7 linked regions of the Homo sapiens genome follow. The protein of the gene in region 1 purifies or fractionates together with the protein of each later gene. This does not show direct contact. Each region holds a gene or a part of one and is shown in the gene's direction. Other genes may lie near its edges.

What was found.
Region 2: the proteins of C1orf54 (region 1) and SEMA3C purify together in Homo sapiens (co-immunoprecipitation; 2 studies listed by BioGRID and IntAct, with this or other methods). This does not show direct contact.
Region 3: the proteins of C1orf54 (region 1) and TMEM131 purify together in Homo sapiens (co-immunoprecipitation; 2 studies listed by BioGRID and IntAct, with this or other methods). This does not show direct contact.
Region 4: the proteins of C1orf54 (region 1) and UGT8 purify together in Homo sapiens (co-immunoprecipitation; 2 studies listed by BioGRID and IntAct, with this or other methods). This does not show direct contact.
Region 5: the proteins of C1orf54 (region 1) and MGAT5 purify together in Homo sapiens (co-immunoprecipitation; 2 studies listed by BioGRID and IntAct, with this or other methods). This does not show direct contact.
Region 6: the proteins of C1orf54 (region 1) and GDF11 purify together in Homo sapiens (co-immunoprecipitation; 2 studies listed by BioGRID and IntAct, with this or other methods). This does not show direct contact.
Region 7: the proteins of C1orf54 (region 1) and LRFN3 purify together in Homo sapiens (co-immunoprecipitation; 2 studies listed by BioGRID and IntAct, with this or other methods). This does not show direct contact.

What each region holds. Positions count from the first base shown.
Region 1 is NC_000001.11:150,271,167-150,276,008, forward strand, and holds the start of C1orf54 (uncharacterized protein C1orf54 isoform b precursor), read left to right. Parts: upstream 1-1,623; 5' UTR 1,624-1,651; coding exon 1,652-1,697; intron 1,698-2,920; coding exon 2,921-3,004; intron 3,005-4,574; coding exon 4,575-4,633; intron 4,634-4,842.
Region 2 is NC_000007.14:80,803,807-80,808,072, reverse strand, and holds part of SEMA3C (semaphorin-3C isoform 2 precursor), read left to right. Parts: intron 1-2,314; coding exon 2,315-2,434; intron 2,435-3,824; coding exon 3,825-3,967; intron 3,968-4,266. UniProt on the Homo sapiens protein: Binds to plexin family members and plays an important role in the regulation of developmental processes. Required for normal cardiovascular development during embryogenesis.
Region 3 is NC_000002.12:97,988,985-97,993,250, reverse strand, and holds part of TMEM131 (transmembrane protein 131 precursor), read left to right. Parts: intron 1-4,266.
Region 4 is NC_000004.12:114,664,414-114,668,679, forward strand, and holds part of UGT8 (2-hydroxyacylsphingosine 1-beta-galactosyltransferase precursor), read left to right. Parts: intron 1-1,266; coding exon 1,267-1,343; intron 1,344-3,671; coding exon 3,672-3,891; intron 3,892-4,266. UniProt on the Homo sapiens protein: Catalyzes the transfer of galactose to ceramide, a key enzymatic step in the biosynthesis of galactocerebrosides, which are abundant sphingolipids of the myelin membrane of the central nervous system and peripheral nervous system.
Region 5 is NC_000002.12:134,257,072-134,260,571, forward strand, and holds part of MGAT5 (alpha-1,6-mannosylglycoprotein 6-beta-N-acetylglucosaminyltransferase A), read left to right. Parts: intron 1-3,500. UniProt on the Homo sapiens protein: Catalyzes the addition of N-acetylglucosamine (GlcNAc) in beta 1-6 linkage to the alpha-linked mannose of biantennary N-linked oligosaccharides.
Region 6 is NC_000012.12:55,752,828-55,755,914, forward strand, and holds part of GDF11 (growth/differentiation factor 11 preproprotein), read left to right. Parts: 3' UTR 1-3,087. UniProt on the Homo sapiens protein: Secreted signal that acts globally to regulate anterior/posterior axial patterning during development. May play critical roles in patterning both mesodermal and neural tissues. It is required for proper vertebral patterning and orofacial development.
Region 7 is NC_000019.10:35,939,113-35,943,378, forward strand, and holds part of LRFN3 (leucine-rich repeat and fibronectin type-III domain-containing protein 3 precursor), read left to right. Parts: intron 1-297; 5' UTR 298-313; coding exon 314-1,728; intron 1,729-4,266. UniProt on the Homo sapiens protein: Cell adhesion molecule that mediates homophilic cell-cell adhesion in a Ca(2+)-independent manner. Promotes neurite outgrowth in hippocampal neurons.

The sequences.
Region 1 (4,842 bases):
CAGTGGTGCTATCTCGGCTCACTGCAACCTCTGCCTCCCAGGTTCAAGTGATTCTCCTGCTTCAGCCTCCCTAGTAGCTGGGATTACTGGCGCCTGCCACCAAGCCCAGCTAATTTTTGTATTTTTAGTAGAGACAAGGTTTCACCATGTTGGCCAGGCTGATCTCCTGACCTCAGGTGATCTGTCCGCCTAAGCCTCCCAAAGTACTGGGATTACAGGCGTGAGCCACTGTGGCCAGCTTCATCTCTCCATTGAGCTGTTACCACAGCATCTTCTGACCATTGACAGGAGGCTGTAAACCTATCTTGTTCATGGGTGTTTCCACAGACACTTGCATAGTGCCTGACTCATAGTAGATGTTGAGCAGATACTTATTAACTTCCCTTAAGAACAAAGCAAAACTGTCTTTTCTTATTCCCTTGCCTATAAGCTCTCAATTGCCTATCACACTAGGCCTAGCACACTGTGCCTAGCACGTATGTTGCTAAGGGTTTCTGAATTGAATGAACATGGGAAACATAAAAGCAGAGGAAAGGATAAAAACTCTACACCTGTAGGACGGAATGAAGGGAACATACCAAGTGACTGAATGTGGGAGGGAAGGTGTGGCACCTGTAGCAGGGAAAGAGACTATCTGCTTTCTCCCTTCTTCCAACCTGCATCCTGGAAGTTGAGAAAGAGATGAGGTGAGGCCGGGCACGGTGGCTCATGCCTGTAATCCCAGTACTTTGGGAGGCCAAGACAGGTGGATCATCTGAGGTCAGGAGTTCGAGACCAGCCTGGGCCAACATGGTGAAACCCCGTCTCTACTAAAAATACAAAACTTAGCTGGGCATGGTGGCACGCGCCTGTAGTCCCAGCTACCAGGGAGGCTGAGGCAGGAGAATCACTGGAACCCGGGAGGCAGAGGTTGCAGTGAGCCGAGATCGCGCCACTGCACTCCAACCTGGGTGACAAAGCAAGATTCTGTCTCAAAAAAAAAACAAAGAGGTGAGGTGAGGTCAGTGTTACCAGAAAGGAAATAACTGACCATGGCTGAGAGACTTTTAGCTGAAGCCATGCAGCAGGTGCTTTAAGTCAGACAATGATGGGTAAATATTGTTCCTATTCTCTATAGCTCCAGACAGACAGAAGAAAGGGATTCTTTTCAGTCTAGAAAAATGCTCACCCCTTCCTCAGAACATTTCCACTGTGACGAAAAGAGACTGATGAAGCCTCAGAGAGAAAGGCAACTCTGGGTGGTGATGGTAAGTCAGAGACAGTGAGAGGGAGGGTGAACTTTTTATGAGGCCTTGGAGGAAGGAAGGAAAGCCGGGAGAGGGGAAACTTCTTGGTAGGCTTATTTTTTATTTTTATTTTGGTAGTGACAGTGGGAGTCTTGAATGGATCTAATCTAGGGCAGGGGGAGCTTAAGAAACATGTTTGCATCAAAACCCCCTTTTGCCTCTCAATCTGGGCAGCTCTGGCTGGGGACCGGCAGTAACCGGAGATCTAGTCAGTCAGCCAGTAGGCGGGGAGTTCTGCCCCCTGGGAGGAGAAGAGTTGCTGCAGCTCCTTCCCTGCTTTGGAGGAGGAGGGGAGGCGGGGTAAGTTTGGTGGGAAACTCTGTAATTTCCTTTTTTACTTTCACAGCAATAGTGCAGAATCCAGAATGGATGTCCTCTTTGTAGCCATCTTTGCTGTGCCACTTATCCTGGGTAAGTCCACTCCTCTCTCTGAGCTTTTGTGCCAGGTCTTCTACCATAAATGGGGTGGGAGAAAAAAAATGAGGAGTGGGTGAGAGGTACATTTCAGTGGGGAGCGATAGAGTTTTCTCATCGTGCTGGGGTCCGGTGTTGAGGGCAGAATGGAGATCTGGAAGGCAGAGCCAGGAAAGGGGGAAAAAAGCAGAGTCCTGTCAAACAAGGAGGATGGAGCTCCAGACACAAGGAGGCCCTAGCAACACTGAGCTCAGTTCTCCATCACCACGGAAGTTGAACAAGATGACAGGGGCTAAAGTAAGGGTGAAGGAGGGATTATTGGAAGGTGTCACAGTCTGAAACTAGTAGTTAGGGTATCTCCTTTCCCAGAGAATTGGAGAAAAAAACCTGCTATTAGTAAAGACACAGAAGTGGGGTGACCTTTAGGGTAGTGGAAAACTGGCTGTCTTCAGGGACAGGGTCCCAAGAGTAGCTTGGCTCCTTCCCTCCTTTGTTCCCCAGTCTACCAGGTGTGTCTCATTGTTTCCTTTTCCTCTAGATTCTTGTGTCATTAGCTTGGAGTTGAAGGGAAAGCATTCAAGGAGCTCAGGGAAGTGTTTAGCAGGAGGCCTGGAGTTCTTGATCCAGTCATATCAAAGCCACATATTTTTAGTTCTGAAAGGGAAGAAAAACTAACAGAGATGGGTCATTTTAGTCCAGCTGACTCATTTTAAGAAAGCGGATGTTAAGTGGATTGTTCAGGGTTATTCTGTTAGCAGTGAAGGTGGAACTAAAGCTCAAATCCAAAGCCTAAGGGTGTATGTTAGTTATTTGTAAGAGATACTGATAAGAAAAGATGTCTCACAAATACAGTAAGATCTGGAGCATACTAAATAGAAGACTTGGCGTTTTTAATTCCTGGTCTCTACTTTTCCTACCTTTTTTAGGTCTGGTTCTCCCTTTGGGTTTATAGTATGTGAAGGGGACTGTTTTCTGTTTTAGGAGTTCCTGGATTGAAAGGGCACGGAGTAACAGGCCTCATTACAGATATGGATCCCAGAAGACTGAGAGGGGTGTAGAGGTGCACAGGCAAGAAAGGAGTATGACTATTGGAGGAGAGAGAGAGAGAGAGAAAAGAAAGAAAGAGCAAGAAAGCTGGGAGCGCTGAGGTCATCTCCAGGTGTCCTTTTGTTAGTAAGGTGTTCCAGATGTCCCTTGACCTCTAGTCCTTGTCCCCATAGGACAAGAATATGAGGATGAAGAAAGACTGGGAGAGGATGAATATTATCAGGTGGTCTATTATTATACAGTCACCCCCAGTTATGGTGAGTACATGAAAGGCTCTTGCCCTTAGCCAACTGGAGAGAGGCTTCAGGATATTTAGTTCTGAGACTTTGCTCTTCACTTTGAAGCAGAGCAATGGGGTCAGAGAAAAATCTGGCTATGAACAAAACCTATCAAGACTCATGATGGGGCCGGGCGTGGTGGCTCACACCTGTAATCCCAGCACTTTGGGAGGCTGAGGCGGGCGGATCACGAGGTCAGGAGATCGAGACCATCCTGGCTAACACAGTGAAACCCTGTCTCTACTAAAAATACAAAAAATTAGCCGGGTGTGGTGGCGGGTGCCTGCAGTCCCAGCTACTTGGGAGGCTGAGGCAGGAGAATGGCATGAACCCGGGAGGCAGAGGTTGCAGTGAGCTGAGATCGTGCCACTGCACTCCAGCCTGGGTGACAGAGCAAGACTCCATCTCAAAAAAAAAAAATGAAAAAAGATTTATGATGGGCTGGGCGCAGTGACTCATGCCTGTAATCCCAGCACTTTGGGAGGCTGAGGTGGGTGGATCACCTGCGGTCAGGAGTTTGAGACCAGCCTGGCCAACATGGTGAAACCCTGTCTCTACTAAAAATACAAAAATTAGCTGGGCATGGTGGCACCTGCCTGTAGTCCCAGTTATTCAGGAGGCTGAGGCAGGAGAATCGCTTGAACCTGGGAGGCAGAGGTTGTGGTGAACTGAGATCACACCACTGCACTCCAGCCTGGGCGACAGAATGAGACTACGTCACAAAAAAAAAAAAAGACTCATGATGATGTTATTTTTCCAGATAGTGATTTTTAGATGGGAGGATTGCTTGAGCCCAGGAGTTCAAGACCACCCTGGACATCATAGCAAGACCTTGTCTCTATAGAAAAAAAAATTTTTTTTTTTTGAGACCAAATCTCATGCTGTCACCCAGGCTAGAGTGCAGTGGCACAATCTCAGCTCACTGCAACCTCTGCCTCTCGGCTTCCAGCTATTCTCTTGCCTCAGCCTCCTAGGTAGCTGGGACTACAGGCGTGTGCTACCATGCCCGGCTAATTTTGTATCTTTAGTAGAGACAAGGTGTCACCATGTTGGCCACGCTGGTCTTGAACTCCTGATCTCGTGATCTGCCCACCTCAGCCTCCCAAAGTGCTGGGATTACAGGCTTGAGCCATCGTGCCCGGCCAAATTTTTTTTTTTTTAATTAGCTGGGCATGGTGGCACATGGCTGTAGTCCCAGCTACTCAGGAGGCTGAGGCAGGAGGATCACTTGAGCTCAGGAGCTGGAGGTGGCAGTGAGCTATGATTGAACCAACTGTACTCCAGCCTGTTAACACAGTGAGACCCTGACTCTAAAAAAAGAAGAACTTGAAAATTTTTCAAATTTGTAAATTATTTTAGATACCTACATTGAAAATATAAATGCATACACATTCACAGTCATTTTTAACATTAGTTAAATAAAATTGGATTATACCAATAAATGTTACAACTTAAGTTAAACTATTCTGAGTAATTTCTTCCCTTTTCATTTCCAGATCTAGAGTTACATTTTTCTTTAATTATTACTGATTTTCTTTCTCCTCTGCAGATGACTTTAGTGCAGATTTCACCATTGATTACTCCATATTTGAGTCAGAGGACAGGCTGGTGAGTGAACTCTACATCTAAAAGGGTTAGGATAAGTAACAATTAAAAAGAAACTGGCCGGGCGCAGTGGCTCATGCCTATAATCCCAGCACTTTGGGAGGCCAAGGCGAGTGGATCATTTGAGGTCAAGAGTTTGAGACCAGCCTGGCCAAAATGGTGAAACCCCGTCTCTACTAAAAATACAAAAACATTAGTTGGACATGGTAGCA
Region 2 (4,266 bases), on another chromosome or scaffold:
CCTGAGAGTTGAATTCCTATGCTCATGTTCCTATACTACTTTTAACATTTGAGTAACTTTACATTTTGTAATCAAATGAAAGTCACTAAACAATTTGCTTGCCTTGAAAACTGACAGTAAAAAGAACAAAAAGCTTTATAAGATTGTAGTTATCATTTTATTCATCCAATTGATTATCCCTCTCAAATTATCTCCTGTGATTTCTGTGGTCATCTCCCTTAACCATGTAATAGTACTTTATCATTTCCATTCAAGCGCAGTGTGCTAATAAAAGCACAGATTGCTTAAGATATTTATATCTATTAAATGACCAGAAACCTGAAGAATTAGAATTCCAAATTTCATGATGTAGTTTTGCAAGTTCAGTGTGCTTTTGCTATTTTCAGTCACTGCTGTAGGCAACAACGAAGTCAGATGTTATCTTTTAAAGAGCCTACATAACTTTATGAAGTTTTTCTAGTCAGTAGAAATACAGTTGGAAAGCAAAATGTTTTTGAAATAAAGCTAAAAGGCACAAGTTTATTTCTGCATAAGGTCATGCAAAAAATCCTCTCAAGATTGTTACCAAAGTGACATTTATCAAAAATTTCTTATTGATATAAAATGAAGCAGAAAGTTCCTTACTTGCTGTTAAAATTACTGCGAATTTAAGATAGGAAATGAAGCCAATTAGATGTGCAGGCTTATGTAATGTTTGAGACATGACTAATAAGGTGGTATGAAGTAGGATTAGAATTAGCCCTCTCTGCCATACACTAACTTCTTAGTATCTTTTTTTCTTTTTCTGCTTGAAAACAGATATGACAATTGATAGCTGTGCCAATCAATCTGTTGAACAGCAGGAATGTATAATCCACAGTTTAATGGTTAATTGAATATACAAAAATGTGAAATAATTATTTACAAAGTTGCCACAATTTAATAGCTAGATCTGTGTGTATATAAGCCTCACAAATGTTCTTAGAATTTTAAAGAAGCTAAAATGGTAAAGAAAAAAAAAAGCCTTCATACACATTTTTGTTATCTCCCTATAATCTGTTTCCCTGGGCCTAGAACCCCTACTAGGAAGCAGAGCTGAGCAACAAAATGCCCGCCACACCAGCTTGCTAACTGGTAGGGGTCCAGTTCATAACCTGGCGAGCACATATTAGATACATTCCATTCTCCATTCAATGCTGGGCCGACTGGTACTGCTTATTACTAAACAGTGAGCTTAGAGTACTTTGAAATGTTCCAATCCTGCCAAAATGACCACGGTCTGAAGGTAGCCCAGGGAGTAATCCTAGAACAACAGTCAAGGAACGCAGCTGCATGGCAGTTCAGTGGGCCAGGCTGATAAATTTCATGCTTTTTATAATAGATATTTAGCTACTGTTTTATACTCAGGGGTCACGTTTGTTACCAATTCAATGCTTACTGCTCCTTACTAGATGAAAAGTAATATGGATCTTCAAACAATAAGGTAAATGTTGAATGTTATGTATATATAGATTAATACATCTGATTCTGTTAATAGTGAAAATTTATTTAATTTTAAGTATCTTTTCTTTCTTATCGTATTCTATTTTTATGGCTGAGTTGCAGTTGAAAAAGTAGCACTTTGTTTACCTTACCAGGAAACTTCTAGCACTAAAGATCAAAATATGTACTTTTAGTGATTACATTTTTTAGTCACTGATAATGTTTTGACAGTTATAATGTGGCCTCCTTGTCATGTCATAATAATAATTCTTAAAACTATTATATTCAATCCATTTAGGATGATCTTAGAAATTTTAATATGTGTTAAGAACTTTTAAGATCATAATCTAATTCCCATACATTGTAGATTAGAAGGTTGAGACTCTAGATGTTCAATAGCTTAGCACTAGTTCCCAGCTTGTTAGGGATTACCAAAGTTAGAAACCATGTTTTCTGACTCTTACAGTGTTTTTCTTTTAAATGTATTATAGGTAAACAGTTAAGCTATTTTGTTATCTATTATACGTCTGCCATTTCTGATAGACTCTATATAAAAATTAATATATAGTATAATTAAGTACAGGTAGAGGAACTCTCACTTTTACATAGAATAAAGTTGTTTTGAGGTTTGATTTTTTAAAAAACATAGTAATTATCATTCAGGCAATAATGAGAAAAGATTAAAATTTATAAAATTTATTGATTTGCTGGACAATGCAAACCAATTAATATTTGTTATAACCAATTATCATAACACTGTAATACCTGTGGTGATCTCCTAATAAATAAACTCACCTAGAATTTCAAAATAGCTTTAAAAATTTACATTTCATTGATATTTTCTTTTTCATAGATGAGGAGCTTTTCTCTGGAATGTATATAGATTTCATGGGGACAGATGCTGCTATTTTTCGAAGTTTAACCAAGAGGAATGCGGTCAGAACTGATCAACATAATTCCAAATGGCTAAGTGGTAAGAAAGCATTTGATGCATTTATTTTTTAGTATCGTGTTAAACTAACTTATTTAATTCTATCCTAACAACTAGGGAAAATGGTTAAAAACTAAAATAGCAGGCTATTACATGAATAATGGTAATTCTGTACCCTATGATTTAAAATATTCGGGGAAAATAAACAATTGAATAGCTCATAGTCCATATTTCGATTCTTTATTTCTATTAATCATCCTACAGTTATCATATGAATATGAATAAATAAAAGTGACAGTGATAATTTATATTTCAGTACCCAAGCATCTTCTCCAGTTGTTTAATTGTAACATATTGCAATTAAATATGCTTTTTACTTCATTTAATCTGCTTGTATGTTTTAACAATACCAAATCTAAAAATTATCCCAAATGTATGACATTGAGATGCAATGAACAGAGTATAGCCGGGGCCTCCTCTCTTTTTGTTTTATACTTAGATTCTAAAATTACAAAACTGGTATGTATTTTCTCATAAATGGACTAATATTCAGTAGAAATCATAGGAATGATAACTATGATTATCCATATTCAGTTGCCTCCAGCTCTTGGAGTCATATGGAATTCACATCAAAAAAGGTGCTCATTTGGTTTACCGTATTATTCCAATCAATTGCTGTTGTTTAGAGCAATTAAAAAAACAAAAACAAAAACAAAAAACGAAGATTCTTGTCATTTCACCCTGGAGAAAATTTTTAGCTGACCCTAAATGTGGCAATTCATTTAACATTGCAGAGTTAAGCATGAATCACCACAGTGAAGCATCCTATTTCGCTGATAGGCCAGCACAAGAAAGCATTGATTGTTCATTTACTTATTCAGATTATTCCTCCAGTACATCTGGAAATAGAATATTCTAAAAGTTGTTTTGTTCTTGAAATAAGGAAACCCTGTATGTCTCCAAATGACTAATGACGCTGTTTTTCCTTGAAAAGTTTCCCCTTCATTTCGTATGTTGCATTTTAAGAAAAGTCATGTTTTTCAGAGTTTGGACTTCCAACTCCTCATTCTGCTTCAACAAATTTGAGTTTATATGTGCTAGATTGAAAAACATACTTTGAAAAATAAATATTTTTTTTCAATAAAATAGCCATCAGATTCCTTAGGAAATAACTGGTAGAAAAGTTTTTCAATTTTTTGAAACTCATTGGTGCACAAATAATTTTCACATTTCCTGCACTTCCTGTGGTACTCGACATTCCAAATGTGGCATGGTGTGTGAATGCAATTACTGCTTTTAGAAATGTGCCTGTAAATGTTGAATTGTTTTTTTCTACCAAAGATGGGGAAGGCATCTGCCTGTGGTCTACTTGGATGACAGAAGATGGATTTTCATAATGAATATATACCTAGTCTTTTACCTTTTTTTCTAGAACCTATGTTTGTAGATGCACATGTCATCCCAGATGGTACTGATCCAAATGATGCTAAGGTGTACTTCTTCTTCAAAGAAAAACTGACTGACAATAACAGGAGCACGAAACAGATTCATTCCATGATTGCTCGAATATGTCCTGTAAGTATTAATGCTGTTCCGATTTGAAGAAAGACCAAGAAATTCAAATTATGGTTTATCTCCGTGCTTTTATTATCAACCATTACAAATAAATAAAATATTGAGGGAAGCATTTAATGTAACATTTATTCATCATCATTATTATATTTAATATTCATCATTTTATATTGAATATAGTGTTTATAACCCCAACCCAAATTCTAACCCTCAATAAGTTATATGAGATAAACATACCCTATTTTAGTAAAAATCTTAATTCAAGAAAATATTTTGTTTTTGTTCTTGAACAAATAAACACT
Region 3 (4,266 bases), on another chromosome or scaffold:
AGTAGCATAAACTAGTTTAAAATTTCAAAGTTAAGATTTACCTGCAGTTTTAATGATGATTCTGCAGGTATTTTGTATGTTTGTATTTCTTTTCCTTCATTACTGTATAATTTCACTGCAAAATCTTTAAAAGACAATAAAACTCATTGTCTCCTGAAGAAAAGCTGCAGAAATAAATTACCTAATGTAGTTTTTCATGTTTGGACTTGATGTTGATTTTCTTGAGTCAGAAGCATGGACCATTCCTTGTCTTAACATCCTATATGACTTAACTGAGCTATGGGAGTGTGCTATCACTAGTCCAGAGGAAAGGTACCTTTGAGATGGTTTTGGCTGTGATGTAAAGTTTGTAAGGACTTTGAAAGAGTTTCCAGAGATAGAAGTTGTTATAATCACTACAAATAACTAGTTCTAGATTGGTGGCAAGATTTTGTCTTGAGGCTAACATCTAGATACTGAGAATAGCAAAAATGTGTGTGAGTTGTGAAAATATATTTTTAAAATATATAGTGAAAATACATGTGTATGTGTATATATTAAATGTATACTTTTAGTAGTCTTTTGAATTATAAAGCAGCCCATTATGACTGGCAAATAAGACCTTTTTTAAAAAAGCATTATATATCATGTAATATAATTTCATTGTGAAGTGGGTTTTTGGAAGGCATTTATTATAAATGAGAAGCTATAGTTTATGTATCTAGTAAATATAAATTCGAATAAGTTTTCAAGAATGTTTCAATTTATGACAATTTAAATTTCATTGTCACATGTTTTATTAATTGGCAATTAAATGGCAGGGTAACGTTTGACAGCCTTTATTAGGACTTTAAAAATTTTTTGCCAGTGTACTATAGTTTCATGCACAAATTTTTGTTTTAAGCTGTATTTGTGACATAGGTGCAAAACACAGTACAAAAGTATTTACAAAGCATATGAGAAAAGTGCATAGGACTAAAGACCACAAGAAAACAGATAAGAATCTAATAGTTTTCTAAGGGTAGCCAAATTGACTAGGAGTGTTATTTACTTTTTCTTAACCAAACTATTTTTAACCTACTTATTACTCGATAATGTTAAAATGTTTTTGAAAGTGATTTTCTTAAGAGTGAGATGTGTTAACCCTTTGTATGGGGTAGAGTGGGTACCTTTTAATTTAGGGCCTTGTAAATAGAATGTTATTTAATAAGTGCTTCACTAATGAACGTTTGTAGCCTGCTTTTACTAAAGGCTGTTGCCTGATGGAGCATTGGAGTTTTGTAGTTGGAAAAAGTGTGTCCTTTTTTCCTCTTGCTAATGACCATTTTCCTCCTCCTTCTAATTCTTACAGTGGACCCTCATAGACATCTGCCAACAAGATTGCTTTGGGAGTAGATGTAAACTCATCTAATTGTTACTATCCAGAGTAGCAATAAGCCAAATTACTCTTGGAGGAAAATAAAATCTTTGCTAGGTGCTTGATATTTTAGGTGTTCTCTCTCTTGCCTATATGTGACTCAAGCGCTCTGATTGGCCTTGCCAGACCAAGAGGCCCTTTTCCTACAGCTGAATTTTCCCCTACGGTCTCTTGTAAGCAGCATCTGGCATTGTTTCGGTGACTCTGTACTTCTCGGTTCTGGTTGTGCCCTAGCTGACAGTTGCTGCTCTCCAATTGCCTGTTGGTTGTCTTCCTCCCTGTGTGTGTCTAGCTGCTGGTGCACACTGCATGTGTCCAGGGCAGAATTATCTTGCGCCACCTCCAGTTTTCAGTTTTTTATTAATGCTATGATTATTCTGCCTGCCCCACTGGATTCAGTTTTGACCCTTCACCAAGTGGCATCAGTGCCTGTTACATCCTCTTTTGATCACTCTCCCACTGCCTTCACCATGGGGCACTGCAGCAGCCTCTCTCCTACCGCCTTTCGCCATTTCTGTTCAGTCCTGCATGCTCCCTCTGAATTTGTGGTCTTTGTTAATCATTCATCATTCATTTTGACACCTAATTGTGTACTGCCTTGTTAGCTACTTAAATGATTTCAGGGGTGTCATTCTTCACCTAGGCTGGAATTTCTGTAGGGCAGAACCTTTGTCAACATCTGTAGTACATAAATAGCAGGCATTCAGTTTTGATTGAAAGTTTGCCTAAACTTTCATTGTAATATAATTTCATTGTGAAGTGGGTTTTTGGAAGGCATTTAATTTATTATAAATGAGAAGCTATAGTTTATGTATCTAGTAAATATAAATTCGAATAAATTTTCAAGAGTGTTTCAACCTATGACAATTTAAATTTCATAGTCACATGTTCTATCAATTGGCAATTAAATGGCAGAGTAACGTTTGACAGCCTTTATTAGGACTTTTAAAATTTTTTGCCAGTGTACTATAGTTTCATGCACAAATTTTTGTTTTAAGCTGTATTTGTGACGTAGGTGCAAAACACAGTACAAAACTATTTACAAAGCATATGAAAAAAGTGCATAGGACTTTTTATACCTGAGAACCTGAGAGTCAGAAGTACAGGTAAAATTCAGTTCTGGTGCAGATGTCATGAGGAAGTCTGCTATAGTAGGACATTGAGTAACACCAGTTTTTTCTTCCCCACATGTTGCTTTTCCTTGTAACTAAAAGGAGTTGTATACACTTATCTAAACCATCACTTTTATAACTTTTTGATTTTAAGATTTTCAGATTCTCATAAAACCCTAATCTAGAGATCATGAAACTGAGGCTTAGAGAGGTTAAGTAATATACCCAGCGTGATAGGGCTGGTAAATAGTGGAGCCAGGATTCCGCCCTAAGACATCTGTCCCTTGAGCCAAACTATGTAACCCCAAATGAGCACTTCAGGAATTAGATTTTGTTATATTGTACCAACTGCAAAAAGAACAGACTTGACAGTTCATGCAAAACCCATGTATTAGTATTCAAGTAAAATGTACTTTTTTTTTTTTTCAATCAGCCACAAGCTTTCATATCACTTTCTGTTGACTTGTTAACAGTTTAAGTAATCACAGGCCATTCTGGATCATGAAGGTTCTTAAAAGGAAACCAGTGAGTGGATAATACAGGGAAATGAATATTTGGTATTCGAAGCTACTGTCTCTTTGTTCTTGATGACTTAGATACCTGGTTGTATTGCTAAGGTTAAGCAATATTGCCTTCTGTAGATACTGCTTAGCTCCAGATTGGTGTGATGAGTTAGTCTAGACTTGTGGAATATTCTCAGAAGCTGGCCCTGGACTAACAGGAGCTGGAGATAATGCAAGGGCTGGTAGTGGCATTTGCCTCGGCAGGCAGAAATCTCTCGCAGACTTCCATTAGAGGTCCAAGGGCTCCAGAAGAAGTTCAAAGGTGCTTTGTTCTTATTAGGGCATTTTGGAATTAGGTGGTCATTAGTTCTCATCTGTAGTTCCAAATCTGTTTTGTTGTTGTTGTTTTTTAATTCCCATGTGATTACTTTTAAAACCACAGATGGAGGGTTTCTAGAAAGCCTTTGCCATTTGCCTGATTGATTTTGTTGCATACAACTCTGCCGTTTTAGGGCAGAGGTTTGATGTTTAAGAGGATCTTTTAGATGGTCAGTCATGATAGAGTATGAAACCTACGTTTTTATTTATTTTCATTTATTTATTTTCTAGAAACTTGGTGAAAAAAACACATAACAAAATACTTAACCATTTTTATATGTACAGTTCAGTGGTGTTAAGTGTATTCACGTTGTTGTGTAGCAGATCTTCAGAACTTCTTCATGTAAAGCTGGAAGTCTATACCCATTAAACAACTTCCTATTTCTCTCCCTACCCTTAATCCCCACCCCCAGGCTCCTGGTAACCACCATTCTACTTTCTGTGTTTATGAATTTGACTACTTTAGATACTTCATATAAGTAGAATAATGCAGGATTTGTGACCTGCTTATTTTACTTAGCATAATATCTGTAAGGTTAATCCATGTTGTAGGATGTGACAGTTCCTTCCTTTTTTTTTTTTTTGTTTTGTTTTTTGAAATGATGTTTTGAGAATTTATTTACAACCATTGAACACGGATGATTTTGTAAAACTGACAATTACAGGCTCCTTAAACTCACAACATACATATATTTCAATATTTAAATAGCCTGTTTTCTTCAAAAGTAATTTTCTGCTTTTTCATAAAAATATAAAAAAGACAACATTTATAGTTCCTTCCTTTTTAAGGTTGAATTATATTCCATTGTATGGATATACCACATTTTGTTTATCCATTCATCCATCCGTGGACACTAGGCTTGCTCCTACCTCTTGG
Region 4 (4,266 bases), on another chromosome or scaffold:
TTCTACCCTCGTTTACTCTTTTATTATTTATTATGATTTTAAAAATTAGTTTTAATTGCATGCCTTTTTATATACTCCTTCAAATCAGTTTTGAAATGAGGAAGAAAATGATGGATTAACGAATACCTAAAATACCGTGGACTCTTTTGGGCTCCCACTTTGTCTCCTTTACATTATGTTTTTGATTTATTTTATTTAAGAAACCTGGCCTTTAAAAACACAATCACGTACCATTTAACACGGTTTAAGACAGAACCATAGATTGACCCCAGCTTCTTTTGGAAGGCATTGCCAGCACATGACTGTCTTTGGAATTTCCAGCCCAATGCTGAAAAATCAGACGTGAACACTTTATTTAGCGTGTATTTATTGAGCACGTACTACCACTGTTGAACTCTAGGGATACAACGTCGGTCCCATAGTTACTACCATGAGTGGAAGAAAGTGCCCCTTAAGCCATTGCAAGTAGGCTTTGAGTAATAGAGATTTTCCCTTTATAGCAAATGAGTAAGGATTAGCTCCCACTTCTCCTGGCTGAACTATGCAGTGATATTTATTTTATTCTAACTGTTCAGGACTTTTCCCTTCAGATTCGAGTCCCATTGGGTTTCCTCTGTTAGGCTTAACCCCAGAAAGTACCTCTTCTGCTTCATTTAGGACAGTTTATGTCTATTCCATTCAGACTCTTTTGTCACCCTCTTAGTTGTTAAGCATATTTCTGTTTTATCTTTTAAAGATCAGGCAGGAAACAACCTAATTATGTGCTTCACCCCACAAAACTTTTATTTCTGGTGAAGCTAAAGAAGAGAACTTACTGATTTTTTTCAATACTTCTGCCTTCCCTCAGACTCAGGGTGTTAAGGATTTAGGGATATTGACTGCCATAGCAGTGGCAGCTCTCCCTGCTCCTTCTTGTTCCAGCTTCTGGCTGTTTGTGGGGAATAACTTCTAGTGTAGGTTTATTTGTTTGTTGTTTGTTTGTTTGTTTGTTTTTCCCATCTCTGTATGTGTATAGGCGTGAGGAACCAATGGAAAATAGATCTCTATGTAAGCAAATTATTTCTTGTTTTTCCTCCAACCAGTGAAAGTTTTTATTAAAAAGAAACTTAATCAAATATTTGCTGTTACCAAAGCATGGTTTCATTCTTAAGAATATCAACAAAAGATCATCAAACATTTATTTTAAATCTCATAATTTAATCAGAGAGCCCATACTATGAGTAAGGTTTGATTTTTAAAAGACTAATTGTCTGGTGTACATTTTAGGTTTTCTGGACCCAAACCAAAGAATCTAGGAAACAACACTAAACTCATAGAATGGTTACCACAAAATGACCTGCTTGGTAAGTCAATGATGTGTGGTTACTTACTTGGCTGTTAGGTTTTAATTACATAAATGTGACTTTTTTTTTTTTTTTACTTCAGAGGTTCATACGGTATACGGTATGTATGTAGTATATGGTAGAGTTATTATGTTTTTTATCCAGTATCTCAAATCTTAAATTTGAGGCCAAAATTTTAAGTCTTTATTTATTGGAAAACAGTTTGTAAAATGTAAACCTTTGGGCCTCTATATTAAAATTTTTAGACCAGCCATCAATTTTAATTATCTGGAAATTATGTACTTAATGAACTATATAAATTAGTAGTGAATAAGATTATACCTAATTAGAGTAATCAGATGAAAGTAGAACAGTTAAAACAATAAGAATGTAGATTTAGGTTACAGGTTTGTTACAGATGGTCTGAGAACCAAGAGAAATTAGAAGTTATTCATTTGTCTGAAACCAAAGAGAAGCAGAAGACCATGGGAACAGTCAATTTATTTTAACTTTAACTGGATTATCTGCTCTGTTTAGTCCTAAATCATTGGGCATTTTTGAAGCATTTTATATTATTTAATCTTGGGGATTTTGATTCTCAAAATTAAAATAGTAATTAGTATATGCGTATCTTTTAAGTGTGTTTTTTAACTAAATTAGTTTTTTAACTAAATTTAACTAAAAACCAGTAAAGAATTTTATTTATGTATATAATTTATTTTCATCTAGCTTATTATAATACTATTCTATAAATGCTAAAACTAAAGAAAAAAGAATACAAGGCAATTTACCTTTCTTGATCCTTGTATTTTTTTATTTTTAAATCTTTTATGGCTTTACTGTTATGACTTAGATTCCTTAGAAGATAGGAAAGAAGCAGGAAGTTTAAGTGAGATAACCTGACTATCAACTATTTCAGTGCGACAGTGTGACACTGTTATGTATGAACATCTAAACTTTTATTGTGTGTGGGTTTTCCATTTCTTATTGTTTTTCTTTTTTTCTTTTTTTTGACTGTGAGGCTCTACTGCAAGGTCCATGCCTGAAAACTCTCCTCAAGTCCATAGCTGCTCTAGGCTTCTCAGTGTGAGAACTCTGACTTTTTCAAGATTAGTATCTTTTTTAACAATAGGCACTATCCTTGTGAGTCCTCTAATAGCTTCTAACTATGATCAAAAGATTCTTCCGGGATGAGAAGTAGGAACCAAATCAATGTCTTTCCCCTCCCCTCGTAGCCGCCCCTCCTCTTTACACAGCAGCTCTGCTTTATTTAACTGTTGGGTTTGGTGGTAGGTTTTGTTCAAAGAGAGGGGTTTTTGCTAAAAATAAAGTTTGAAATCCACTTCTAGGGCAGATCCTTTAGTTGGACCTAAGAGTCAGAAAAGCCACTTGTGGGTAAGGGCTAGAGACACTGACTAACCAATTCCACCAGTCTTCAGAATGGAAGAGCTCTGGGAGCACCATTGAGACCATGGTTCCCATACATATTAATTTTGTACCTGGCACATGTGTATTTTAAAAGATCGACATTTCAGCTAGCTATAATTTCTTTCTGGCCAATAACATATATCCTAAGTACAATGTTTTTGTTTTGTTTTGTTTTTACAACTCTTATGCCAACTTTTGATCCCTTTTATAGAAATGTAGGCCATTTACCAGGAGAGTAAATCTAGGTTTTGAACTTCCATATTAATTTTGACAAATTATCTTTTTTATTCCCATAACAACTAAATGTTATGTGATGTCTCATGTCTTACAAATGATTATAAATGTTTACCTCTACATGTTTGAGCACATAAATGTAAAATTAAACCTTAAAATTGTGAAATATTAATGCTGATAGAACTTGAATGTTGTGAATAGTGATTACAACATTTCTTTTTGGAGAAGCACACAAACTCTTCATGGACTTCTGGAATCCAGCCCTTTTTTACATTTTTTTTAAAAAGTGTTTTTGACTTTAATATTGATAAACATTTGAGTAGCCAGAAAGTAGATGTCTGTTTTTTCACTCTGGTATTGTTTGGCATTTCTTGCTTTCATTGGCTTCATAATAATTATTGGCCATTTAAATATGTGTTGTTAGTCATGCAATATTTGTGTTAAAAATAGTAATATACATTTCAACTACTTAAAAATGGCTTTTAATTGATATATCAAAATCTGACAATTAGGTATATAACAAATATTTTAATTGGTGTAGAGCAGGAATCAGTGAAATTACACCTTTAGGAATCCTTTATCTGAAATGCATGTTTACTGTAGTGCCGATTTTTAATGAATTTCTGGGAAAATCTCTTCTGTAGAGTAATAATGTTGTAAGTTGTTTTCTTTTTCATCTTTCTTCAGGGCATTCAAAGATTAAAGCCTTCCTGAGCCATGGTGGTTTGAACAGTATTTTTGAAACTATATATCATGGTGTGCCTGTAGTGGGAATTCCACTCTTTGGAGACCATTATGATACTATGACCAGAGTACAGGCAAAAGGCATGGGGATATTGCTAGAATGGAAGACAGTTACTGAAAAAGAGCTCTATGAAGCACTAGTGAAGGTTATCAATAATCCCAGGTAAGGTTTCAATTAACATTAAAGCTGATGAACTTACATACCACAGTATATTGTCAGTAGCCAATTATTTTCAATAGATTGTCAATAAATTATCAAATTATGGAAATATCCTTTAGATTCCTGTGATAATGCTTTGTGCATGTTTTCTATTATTTAGAAAATGAAAACAGCAGTCATTTGACCAGCCATGTTATGACACCAGATAATATTCTGCAAGGATCTTCCAAACAGGGAGAAACTGCAATGGGAACAATCTTTGGATATCTACATTGTGTCAAATGTTATGTGCTTTATTTCATTTTCATACTTATAACAGCTGTATATCACAGTTTTTATTATCCACATTATAGAGGCAAGGCACTTGATATTCATGGA
Region 5 (3,500 bases), on another chromosome or scaffold:
CAGTAACAGCTCCCTAGTTGTGACAATCAAAATGTCTTTAGATATGTGATAATTATCCCCTTCCTGCCACCTTGGAGAACTGTACTAAGAGTGGAAGCCACAAACGCTATCTGACATCATCTTTTTAAGGATGTTATCAAGCAGATAACTGGTTTTAGTTTTTTTGTTTGTTTGTTTCTGAGATGGAGTCTTGCGTTGTTGCCCAGGCTGGAGTGCAGTGGTGTGATCTTGGCTCACTGCAACACCCACCTCCTGGGTTCAAGCCTCAGCCTCCAGAGTAGCTGGGATTACAGGCGCACACCACCACGCCTGCCTAATTTTTGTGTTTTTAGTAGATACGGGGTTTCACCATGTTGGCCAGGCTGGTCTCAAACACCTGACCTCAGATGATCTGCCCGCCTCAGCCTCCCAAAGTGCTGGGATTACAGGTGTGAGCCGCTGTGCCTGGCCTGGTTTTAGTTATTTCAAACTTGAAAGCCTAGTGTTCCCCCTGGTTTCCAGTTCTGGCACCAACAATTTGGATTGAACAAGAGGATTGTACTAGGGATTAGTTAGTATAGTCCAGGGCCAGTCCTAGAAGCTGGAGAGCCATTCTGATGATATATGCTTCCCTTGGAATCTGTCAGTATCAGTAACATTGTGTGACATGCAGGCAGCTCTGGTAGTTAATGTCACATGCTGGTGCAGAGACTGTAGGATTCTCAATGGTATAGCTGGGCTGGCAGAACAGTGATGTGGATGCATAGGCCATTAGTTTGCAGTCTCTTTTTTTTTTTTTTTTTTTGCCATAAATGCAGCCTATGTGCAGTGCATTGCCTACACATCTGCTTTGAGAGTGAAGAGTTGATCCTGTATGGCTAGGATTTGTGTCTGGTTTAAATGAATCCAGCAAAAAGAAGAAAAAAATTCCTTCTTTATCTCATCCCCATATTGGTATAATCAGAGGCTTTTAGGATAAATGGGTATACAGTAGGTATTTGAGGGATTGTAGTAGCTGATTTTAGATGATTGCTGATTTATTAGAATTTCTGGTTAGAGATTCCAAGGCAGCAGGGCTCGGTGAACTATGACCTATGCGCCAAATTCAGGACCTTTGATTGTGTAAATAGTTTTATTGGAACACCTCCACTCCCATTTGTTTGTAACAAATGCAATAACAGATAAACACGGTAATTCCAGTATTTATTTCATAAAACATCTGAAACATTCTGAATCCATCAATCAGCAGTCACCATGGTTATTCTAAATACTCATCTGATCAAGTTCCTTATTGATTCAACTATTTCCCAGGACTCCCATGGTCTAAGGCAGAGTCAGCAAACCATGGCCTACGGGCCAAGTCTTCCTTGGTACCTGTGTTTGTAAAGAAAGCCATGCCCATTTAATTATATGCTGTCTATGGCTGCTTTTGCACTATAGTGGCAGAGTTGAGTAGTTGTCATACAGACTGCAAAGCCTAAATATTTACTGTCTGGTTCTTTACCAAAAATGTTTATCAGTCTCTGACCTAGATAGTCTCTGGGTGAGTCTCTCTCTCTACTGGATTTTGTGTGTGTGTGTGTGTCCCAAGTCTCTTTCACGCCTGTGTTTGGATTCGCTCACGACATCTTCATAAGGTGCACACATAAAATGTAGCATTTCTCTGCCCTCTGAAAATGCTTCTTCTAAGTGGCAGGTCGAGAGTTGTAGTGGTTAGGAGCATGGGTTTGGAGCCAACTGGTTTGTCTTTGCCACATCCTGTCTGCATGGCTTAGGCCCTAGAAGCACAAAACTGCTTTAAAGTGGGGTGTCAGTGCCTCTCACCAAGGACTGTGAGACATGAGCAAAGTGCTGTGTGTCAGGTGCCTGACATTGTGTGCTTGTTGTTGGCTGTTAGTGTGACTTGTGACTAGTACTCAAACAATAATAGAACTTGAAGAGTATCTTCCCTTCCCCAACCCATCCTTGTTTTGGTGATTTGAAAAGAGACTTCTGAACTTCTTTGGGATTTGGCAACTCCAAAGTGATACTCAGAACTCCCGGGCAGCCCGTGTGGAACATTCAGTGCGTTTGTTCTTGGAGTGTGGAGGGCTTTTCTGTGTATTAACTCTGTCAGTCCAGAGAGGAGTGTGTTGGCTTTTGCCTCCCAGGCAAGTGTAGAGCCAGAGCCCTCTGCAGGTCAGCCCCATCTGCATCTCCCAGCCAGTGTGGCAGGGGCCATGCCTGCCAGTGACGTCTCGGGAATTGTGTCATGGATGGTGCCACTCACCCGAGTCAATGCTATTCTTGTTTCTGAGGTGAATTGATCTCTGTCTCCAGCAGCCTGACCCAAATTCTGATCCCTAGTGATCACCTCTTATCTAACAGGACAAACCCGGTCCACTTGTGTTCTCTAATGAACAGTAATGGAAATCTGAGGCAAGGTGACATTTCCCCTTATGGTCCATCCACACGTTGTTAACCCTGGCTTCTCTGGGCTGGGGTACTGTCCTAGAAAAGCTGCCAGCTCAGGCTCAAGCAGCTGTGGGCTCCCAGCTTCTCTCTGCCGACCCCCATCCCACTTTGCCTGCTGCCTGTTTCCTCCTTGACCTCCAGGTTCTGTGTGCCTGTTCTTCCCTACGTTCTGCCTGTCTCCTGGTTCCCTGAGCTTTTTAGTCCTGGACTGGCCCTTTGGCTTCTGTCTTTCAAGCCTGGTCCTTCAGGAAATGTCTGTCATTGGCTGGAATATCCCCCACATTTTGTGCATACAGTGAGAAACAGATGGACAAAGGCCCTGCTCTCATAGATGCTTTGTTATCTTTGGAAGGGAGAAATAATAAGCAAGAGAAAGTCAGATAGCAGTACATTCCAGGAAGAAAAATGGTGATAGGGTTTAAAATATCTGAGGGGCTACTTTGCACTAGAAGGTCACCTCTCTGGAGGTATCTTTTAACCAGAATGACACACGGAGCAGCCAGGTACAGTGGAAAGAGAGAGGTGGAGGCAGAGCATGCCAAGGAGAAGGCACGGCGTATGCTAGGTCCTAAGGCCTACTCCAGGGTAGAAGGGAGGCCACTGTAGCTAGAACGAAGCAAGCAAGCAGTGGCATGGAAGGTGTTGAGGCAGTGAGAAGCCGGCAGCTTATGCAGAGCCCTGTAGGCTATGACTTCTGGTATCAATATGGATGTTCTTATGCAGAAACCAGATGTTGACCTCACCCTATAGTTCACTGCTTTCTCTATGGGAGGAAGGAAGTTTTTTCCTTAAGGAGGCACACACGCCGGTTGGAGAACCAGCATAGGGCTTTTGGTTGCTGGTTGGGGGCAGTGGAGAGGTAACTGCTTTGGACTTCCGATTGGCCCTCATTGGCTTGGGATGCTATGTCTAAGATGTTAATACCATTTAGGGCTGCCGAAGATTGCTCTGAAAGGTTAGCAGCTGCCCTGTGTTGCAGATCCAGATAACGTTCTGAGATTCGAATGAGAGCTTTTGCAAGTGTTTCCTTCCACCTCTCTTGTGAAAAAGGAACAAAAACAGGTTGG
Region 6 (3,087 bases), on another chromosome or scaffold:
CCAGCACTTGAACCTGAAAAAAAAAATAAAAGCGGTCAAAGAGTTTAGAATTCAGTGCTGAGCTCTTCTCCCTAATCAAGTGCCACATTTACACCTTGGAGAACCGGAGGTGAAGAGGATCTGAGACAGGAAACCTCGTGTTCAATGACTAAGAAGATGGGGTCCTGGAGCAAGACAGAAAACACTAAGGGCATGGTGGTATAAGGTTTGGGACATGCAGGCCAAGGAAGGATGGAAAGAGGACAGGAAACTGGGGGTACCTAGAACAACCCCTCTCTGAAAAGCTTGAGCCAAAACAGTCCCAAAGACAACAAGACCCCTCTCCCAGCCTCCACAGAATGGAAGATCTAAAGGTTCTCTTGAGATGATCCAGCTAGTATGGAAGATCTAAAGGTTCTCTTGAGATGATCCAGCTAGTGTCCTATTCTCCTGCAGTCCCTGTTCCTAGGTTTCCTCAACGAAGTTTGACAAAAATCTAAACCAACATAGCCAACGAACTTGCCTTGTTACACAAGAGTGGCTAAAATAGCATCTCAAATATTCTTTCAGTTCACTGTAAAAATTTTTCCCATGTACCTAGAGCACAATTCCCCAGGAATATGAGTTGGGAATGGCAAAAGAATATTGCCTGACTCACATTTTTCAAAAATAAGGAAAGCTGGCTGGGCGCAGTGGCTTACATCTGTAATCCCAGCACTTTGGGGGGCCGAGGCGGGCGGATCATGCAAGGTCCGGAGTTCGAGACCATGCTGGCCAACATTGTGAAACCTCATCTCTACTAAAATACCCAAAATTAGCCGGGCGTGGTGGCGTGCGCCTGTAATCCCAGCTACATGGAAGGCTGAGGCAGAAGAATCGCTTGAACCCAGGTGGCGGAGGTTGCAGTGAGCTGAGATCGCACCACTGCACTCTAGCATGGTGACAGAGTGAGACTCCCATCTCCAAAAAAAAAAAAAAAAAAAAAAAAAGGAAAGCAGGACCCAGTGGTGTGCTCCTGTAGTTCCAGCTATTCAGGAGGCTGTGGCAGGAGGACCACTTGAGGCCAGAGGGTCAAGGCTGCAGTGTGCTATAATTGGGCCTGTAAATAGCCACTGTACTCCAAGCTGAGCAACACAGTAAGACACTGTCTCTAAAAATAATTAAAGTAAAATAAAAATAAGGAAAGCTCCTGTGACATCAACCTGATCCAGAATTGGGGACAGCGCTACTGCGGGTTCAATGTACTGCCATGTTTTCCCTGTCTTATCAGTTCTATCAGCACACTGACCCCACTCGAGACCAACTACAAGACTAAGGCTGGAAGTGGTTGAGTAGCAGAAGTGTTATGTATTCTATCTTCCCAAGGGAACCATATCCACATCTACCCCTAACTTTGGCCTGAGCTGAAAATGGGTTTTCTCTCCCTGTGGCTCATTTGTTTCCTATATTGAGAGAACACCCAAAAAAAGACTACTCAAGATGACTTTTTACAAGTCTTTTCTTTATCCTAAAACATCCTCCAACCGAAGGCATGGGAAGCTATCCTATACTCTGACCTTGCCTATATTTTAAATGGCAGGGGCCCCAAGCTAAGAATCAGCAGGCAGTGGCATCTACAGCTTCTGGTCTGTAGTGGCGTAGAAGCAGGAAAATCAATGCTCCAAAGCAACAATGTCCAGCTTTCCTGCCAGTGAGCTGGGCTTGAGGGAGTGAATGGGACTCTTTCTGCCTTTTCTTTTTCTCAAAATACGACTGCATTAACTGGGTGTATGCACACACAAACATGTTCAAACTAGGGCACTCATACCTAGCTAGAACCTACTCAGGGAAAGAAATATGTATTTCCACAGTACCCTGATCACCCAGTAAAAGCTAATATTTATTGAATAATTACTATGCAAATTATGGTAAGCAAATTGTAGTGTGAATACATGATATGAGAATATCACTTAATTCACACAGCAACCTTCACAATGGGGTTCCTTTTGGTACAGTCTGAAAAGAGAATGATTATCTGCGCAGGGTCTCAGAGCTAGTGTGGTAGAATAAGAAATTAAACCTAAGTAGTTGCTAAACAATATTACATTCTAATCTATCCTATTGAAAGTGATCCGGGAGGTAGAAACCTAAATACAGGAATAACATAAGGGAAAGAGATAACAAGAAAGTTAGGGACACCTTGGACTCAAAGAATCTGGAAAGATGTGAAACCTGTAATTTTAAATCCCTTTGGAAGGGAAAAACAAGAAAAGTCTAGATATGGCAAGAGAAGGGGAGGTTAAATTTTGGGGGGATTCCAATAATCAGAAATAAGTGGCATTGCCAGAGGCCCTCATATAAGAGAACAGCAAAAAAGTTATCCTCCCTTAAGTTCCTCCCTCACTCCTCATATCAGACACAGCAAGAGAACTCAGCTCAACACCAAGAAGTCCTGCCCTTATTCACACCTTCCTTCCTATAGCCCTCATCCTCACAGAAGCTTCTAGCCTCTATCTTCAGCAGTTCTTAAGAGGTGGGGTGGGGGGCTGGGCAGTTTAGAGTGAGAGTGGAAAAAAAGAATAATCCTAGAGAACCATAAAAAAGTACAGATTTACAGCTGAGGAAGCTAGTTCTCCCCACAGCTTTTATAGACTCCCTCATTAAGAGCTTCCAGGTATGCAGAGAATGTCACAGCTTCAGGAATTGGAATCAGTTAACCACATCTGGATGCTGGATCAACTATAGTAGGGAAACGGGGAGAGGAAGGAAGGGTACTAAGATCTCAGGTAAACAATTACAAGCCTCAATGTCTGTTCCATCTCCAAACGGAATTACTATTTTAAAACTGAATTGGGAAAAAGGCATCCTGAACTATTCATGCTCAAAGAGTATGTGGAGAATGACTATAATGAGATAGGAAGGGGAGGACTTCATCTGGCTTGGAGGTTAGAGACTTCTGACCAACATAGGAACAGCTGCTGAAATGGGATGAAAGAGGTTAATAAGAAAAAAAAAAAAATCCTCACAAATTGGAAAACACTGTTCAAAGATCTAGGGGAAGTAAGATGAGTGAGGAGAATAATTAGGCTTCAAGAAGAGAATCCTGGCAAGTAAGGCTGAATATCTTTC
Region 7 (4,266 bases), on another chromosome or scaffold:
CCATGCCTAGCTAATTTTTAAAAATTTTTGTATAATAGATACACGGTCTCACTTTGTTGCCCAGGCTGGTCTTGAACTCCTGGCCTCAAGCCATCCTCCTGCCTCAGCCTCCCCAAATGCTGGGATTACATGTGTGAGCCACCGCGCCTGGCCTTCCTCTGGCTTTTGGTCACATCTGACGGTCTTTGACCAGCCCTTCTGCCCTCAGCCCACTGTGACCTTCTCTCCTGGTCTCAGACCACCCCCAGCCCCTGCAGAACCCCTCTTCTGCCCTCACGCCTCCCCTCTTCTCCGCAGGACACCCCTGCCCGCGATGGCCATCCTCCCGTTGCTCCTGTGCCTGCTGCCGCTGGCCCCTGCCTCATCCCCACCCCAGTCAGCCACACCCAGCCCATGTCCCCGCCGCTGCCGCTGCCAGACACAGTCGCTGCCCCTAAGCGTGCTGTGCCCAGGGGCAGGCCTCCTGTTCGTGCCACCCTCGCTGGACCGCCGGGCAGCCGAGCTGCGGCTGGCAGACAACTTCATCGCCTCCGTGCGCCGCCGCGACCTGGCCAACATGACAGGCCTGCTGCATCTGAGCCTGTCGCGGAACACCATCCGCCACGTGGCTGCCGGCGCCTTCGCCGACCTGCGGGCCCTGCGTGCCCTGCACCTGGATGGCAACCGGCTGACCTCACTGGGCGAGGGCCAGCTGCGCGGCCTGGTCAACTTGCGCCACCTCATCCTCAGCAACAACCAGCTGGCAGCGCTGGCGGCCGGCGCCCTGGATGATTGTGCCGAGACACTGGAGGACCTCGACCTCTCCTACAACAACCTCGAGCAGCTGCCCTGGGAGGCCCTGGGCCGCCTGGGCAACGTCAACACGTTGGGCCTCGACCACAACCTGCTGGCTTCTGTGCCCGCCGGCGCTTTTTCCCGCCTGCACAAGCTGGCCCGGCTGGACATGACCTCCAACCGCCTGACCACAATCCCACCCGACCCACTCTTCTCCCGCCTGCCCCTGCTCGCCAGGCCCCGGGGCTCGCCCGCCTCTGCCCTGGTGCTGGCCTTTGGCGGGAACCCCCTGCACTGCAACTGCGAGCTGGTGTGGCTGCGTCGCCTGGCGCGGGAGGACGACCTCGAGGCCTGCGCGTCCCCACCTGCTCTGGGCGGCCGCTACTTCTGGGCGGTGGGCGAGGAGGAGTTTGTCTGCGAGCCGCCCGTGGTGACTCACCGCTCACCACCTCTGGCTGTGCCCGCAGGTCGGCCGGCTGCCCTGCGCTGCCGGGCAGTGGGGGACCCAGAGCCCCGTGTGCGTTGGGTGTCACCCCAGGGCCGGCTGCTAGGCAACTCAAGCCGTGCCCGCGCCTTCCCCAATGGGACGCTGGAGCTGCTGGTCACCGAGCCGGGTGATGGTGGCATCTTCACCTGCATTGCGGCCAATGCAGCTGGCGAGGCCACAGCTGCTGTGGAGCTGACTGTGGGTCCCCCACCACCTCCTCAGCTAGCCAACAGCACCAGCTGTGACCCCCCGCGGGACGGGGATCCTGATGCTCTCACCCCACCCTCCGCTGCCTCTGCTTCTGCCAAGGTGGCCGACACTGGGCCCCCTACCGACCGTGGCGTCCAGGTGACTGAGCACGGGGCCACAGCTGCTCTTGTCCAGTGGCCGGATCAGCGGCCTATCCCGGGCATCCGCATGTACCAGATCCAGTACAACAGCTCGGCTGATGACATCCTCGTCTACAGGTGCAGGGTCCAGGCACTGGGGTAGCTTGGGTGGGGGAGTGAGGCAAGGGGAGGGTTGAGGGTACACCTACTAATACCCTACACCGAAGCACAACTGATAAGTGATGCTGGAAGGTTCCAAAAGAAATCAGAGAGCAAAAGTAAAAGAAATCAGGCAGCAAGGATAACAAGACTCTGGCAGAAAGGGTCAATGAAATCTGACAGCAGTGATAAAAAGAAGTCAGACAAGAAGGACGAAGTAAATGAGACAGCAAATGTTAAAATATATCAGGCTACAGGGCTAAAAAAGATCAAGCAATAAGGATAAACGAAATCAGGCTGCATGAGTAAAAAGAAATTAGGCAGCAAGAATAAATAGTAGTAGCAAACATAAAAAGGAAACCAGGCAGCGGGAGGAGAAAGTAATCAGGGCAGAAGAATAAAATGTTAATGGGCAAGGGTGGGTGGGGAAGATAAGGGGATAAAAATAAATTTAAGTTGTAAAGATAAAGAGAGAAACACCAGGTTTTCCAGATGACAGGACTAGATACTAGCTGGGCTGCAGGAAGAAAAGGAGATCAAACAGGAAAGCACAGGGAGCCCAGAAACAATGAAATAAGCAGCTCTGTTAGAAAAAGAAATCAGACCAGAGGTTAGAAGGAAATTGCAGGGAGGAGGTTCGATAGAGACTGGGCTTCGGTGTGTGTGGTGTGAACTATTCCATGTTTCAAGTTCTAATATAGTGACATCCAGATTTTTTTTTTTTTGAGACAGGGTCTCACTTTGTCGCCCAGGCTGGAGTGCAGTGGTGCAATCTCGGCTCACTACAACCTCCACTTCCCGGGTTCAAGCGATTCTTGTGCCTCAGCCTCTCGAGTAGCTGGGATTACAGACGTGCACCAGCACGCCCAGCTAATGTTTGCATTTTATTTTTAGTGGAGACGGGGTTTTGCCATGTTGGCCAGGCTGGTCTAGAAGTCCTGACCTCAGGTGATCCACCTGCCTCAGCCTCCCAAAGTGCTGGGATTACAGGCGTGAACCACCACACCCAGTGTAGATTTTTTCTTTTCTTTTTTTTTTTGAGACGGAGTCTCACTCTGTTGCCCAGGCTGGAGTGCAGTGGCACAATCTTGACTCACTGCAAGCTCCGCCTCCCAGGTTCATGCCATTCTCCTGCCTCAGCCTCCCGAGTAGCTGGGACTACAGGCGCCCGTCACCATGCCCGGCTAATTTTTTGTATTTCTAGTAGAGATGGGGTTTCACCATGTTAGCCAGGATGGTCTCGATCTCCTGACATCGTGATCCACCCGCCTCGGCCTCCCAAAGTGCTAGGATTACAGGCCTGAGCCACCGCGCCCGACAGATTTTTTATTTTCTAAATCAAATCAAACCTAGTTCAAGTTCCTTTTGCCAGGTAAACAGAAATATCCAGTTTGCCACACTTGTGGGGGATTCTCTTCTCTCTCCTGTTGTTGCAAACACAGAACCTGGGGTTTACACACTCCAAGAGGTGGCTCAGTCCAACTTGTTCCCCCAAGCTGGAGAGCACTCAGCACATCTGCAGTGACCGCATGTGGTCAGCAGTGGTGGCTGCTGACCTAGGTGCTGTTGACACCTCTTACCAAAGTCCAACCTTGCATGGATGGACTGCGGCTGTGGGTGAGTCCCTGTCCTCACGGCCAGGCTGGGCCAAGGGTGCAGCCCCAAGGCTGACTGTAAAGACTGGACCTCCCCAGGGTTGAGGACTGTTCCTTGGGGACCTAGTAGTACCTGGATGTCCTTTCCCTCCCTTGGGGCCAACACCTCAAGAAAAGGCCACTTGATTTCCATTTCAGTCCTGGCAACCCACTGAGCTCATTCTACTCCCTTTCTCAGACATGACTCGGAAGATTGCACGGAAGTCCTGCCCCTGAAAATCACACAAGTCGGCCAGGCGCGGTGGCTTAACCCCTATAATCCCAGCACTTTGGGAGGCCGAGGCAGGTGGATCACCAGGTCAGGAGTTTGAGACCATCCTGGCTAACACGGTGAAACCTCGTCTCTACTAAAAATACAAAAAATTAGCTGAGTGTGGTGGCACGCGCCTGTAGTCCCAGCTACTCAGGAGGCTGAGGCAGGAGAATTGCTTGAACCTGGGAGGCGGAGGTTGCAGTGAGCCGAGGCTGTGCCACTGCACTCCAGCCTGGGTGACAGAGTGAGACTCCGTCTCAAAAAAAAAAAAAAAAAGTCACACAAGTCCTGGCCACCTTGCCAGGTGGGGAATGGGATGAATGCTGTCCTAGACAGTCACCCTGCCCCAGGCGGCCACGGAGTTCCCTGTACCTCTCTCATTAGAATAGCCTAGGAATAAAACAGGTGATAAGTCAACTCTCCAACAGGGTGCCCAACTACAAAAGAAACTATAGTGAAATTGGGTGGTAAGGATTAAAAGGAAACAAGAAAGAAAAAGATAAATAGAAACCAGCCAACAGAGATAAAAGAGAAGCAGGTGACAGAGCCGGAAAGAAATAAGGCAACAGGGAGAAAAAGAAAGCAGTAGTGACGGAGGCACATTAGTTT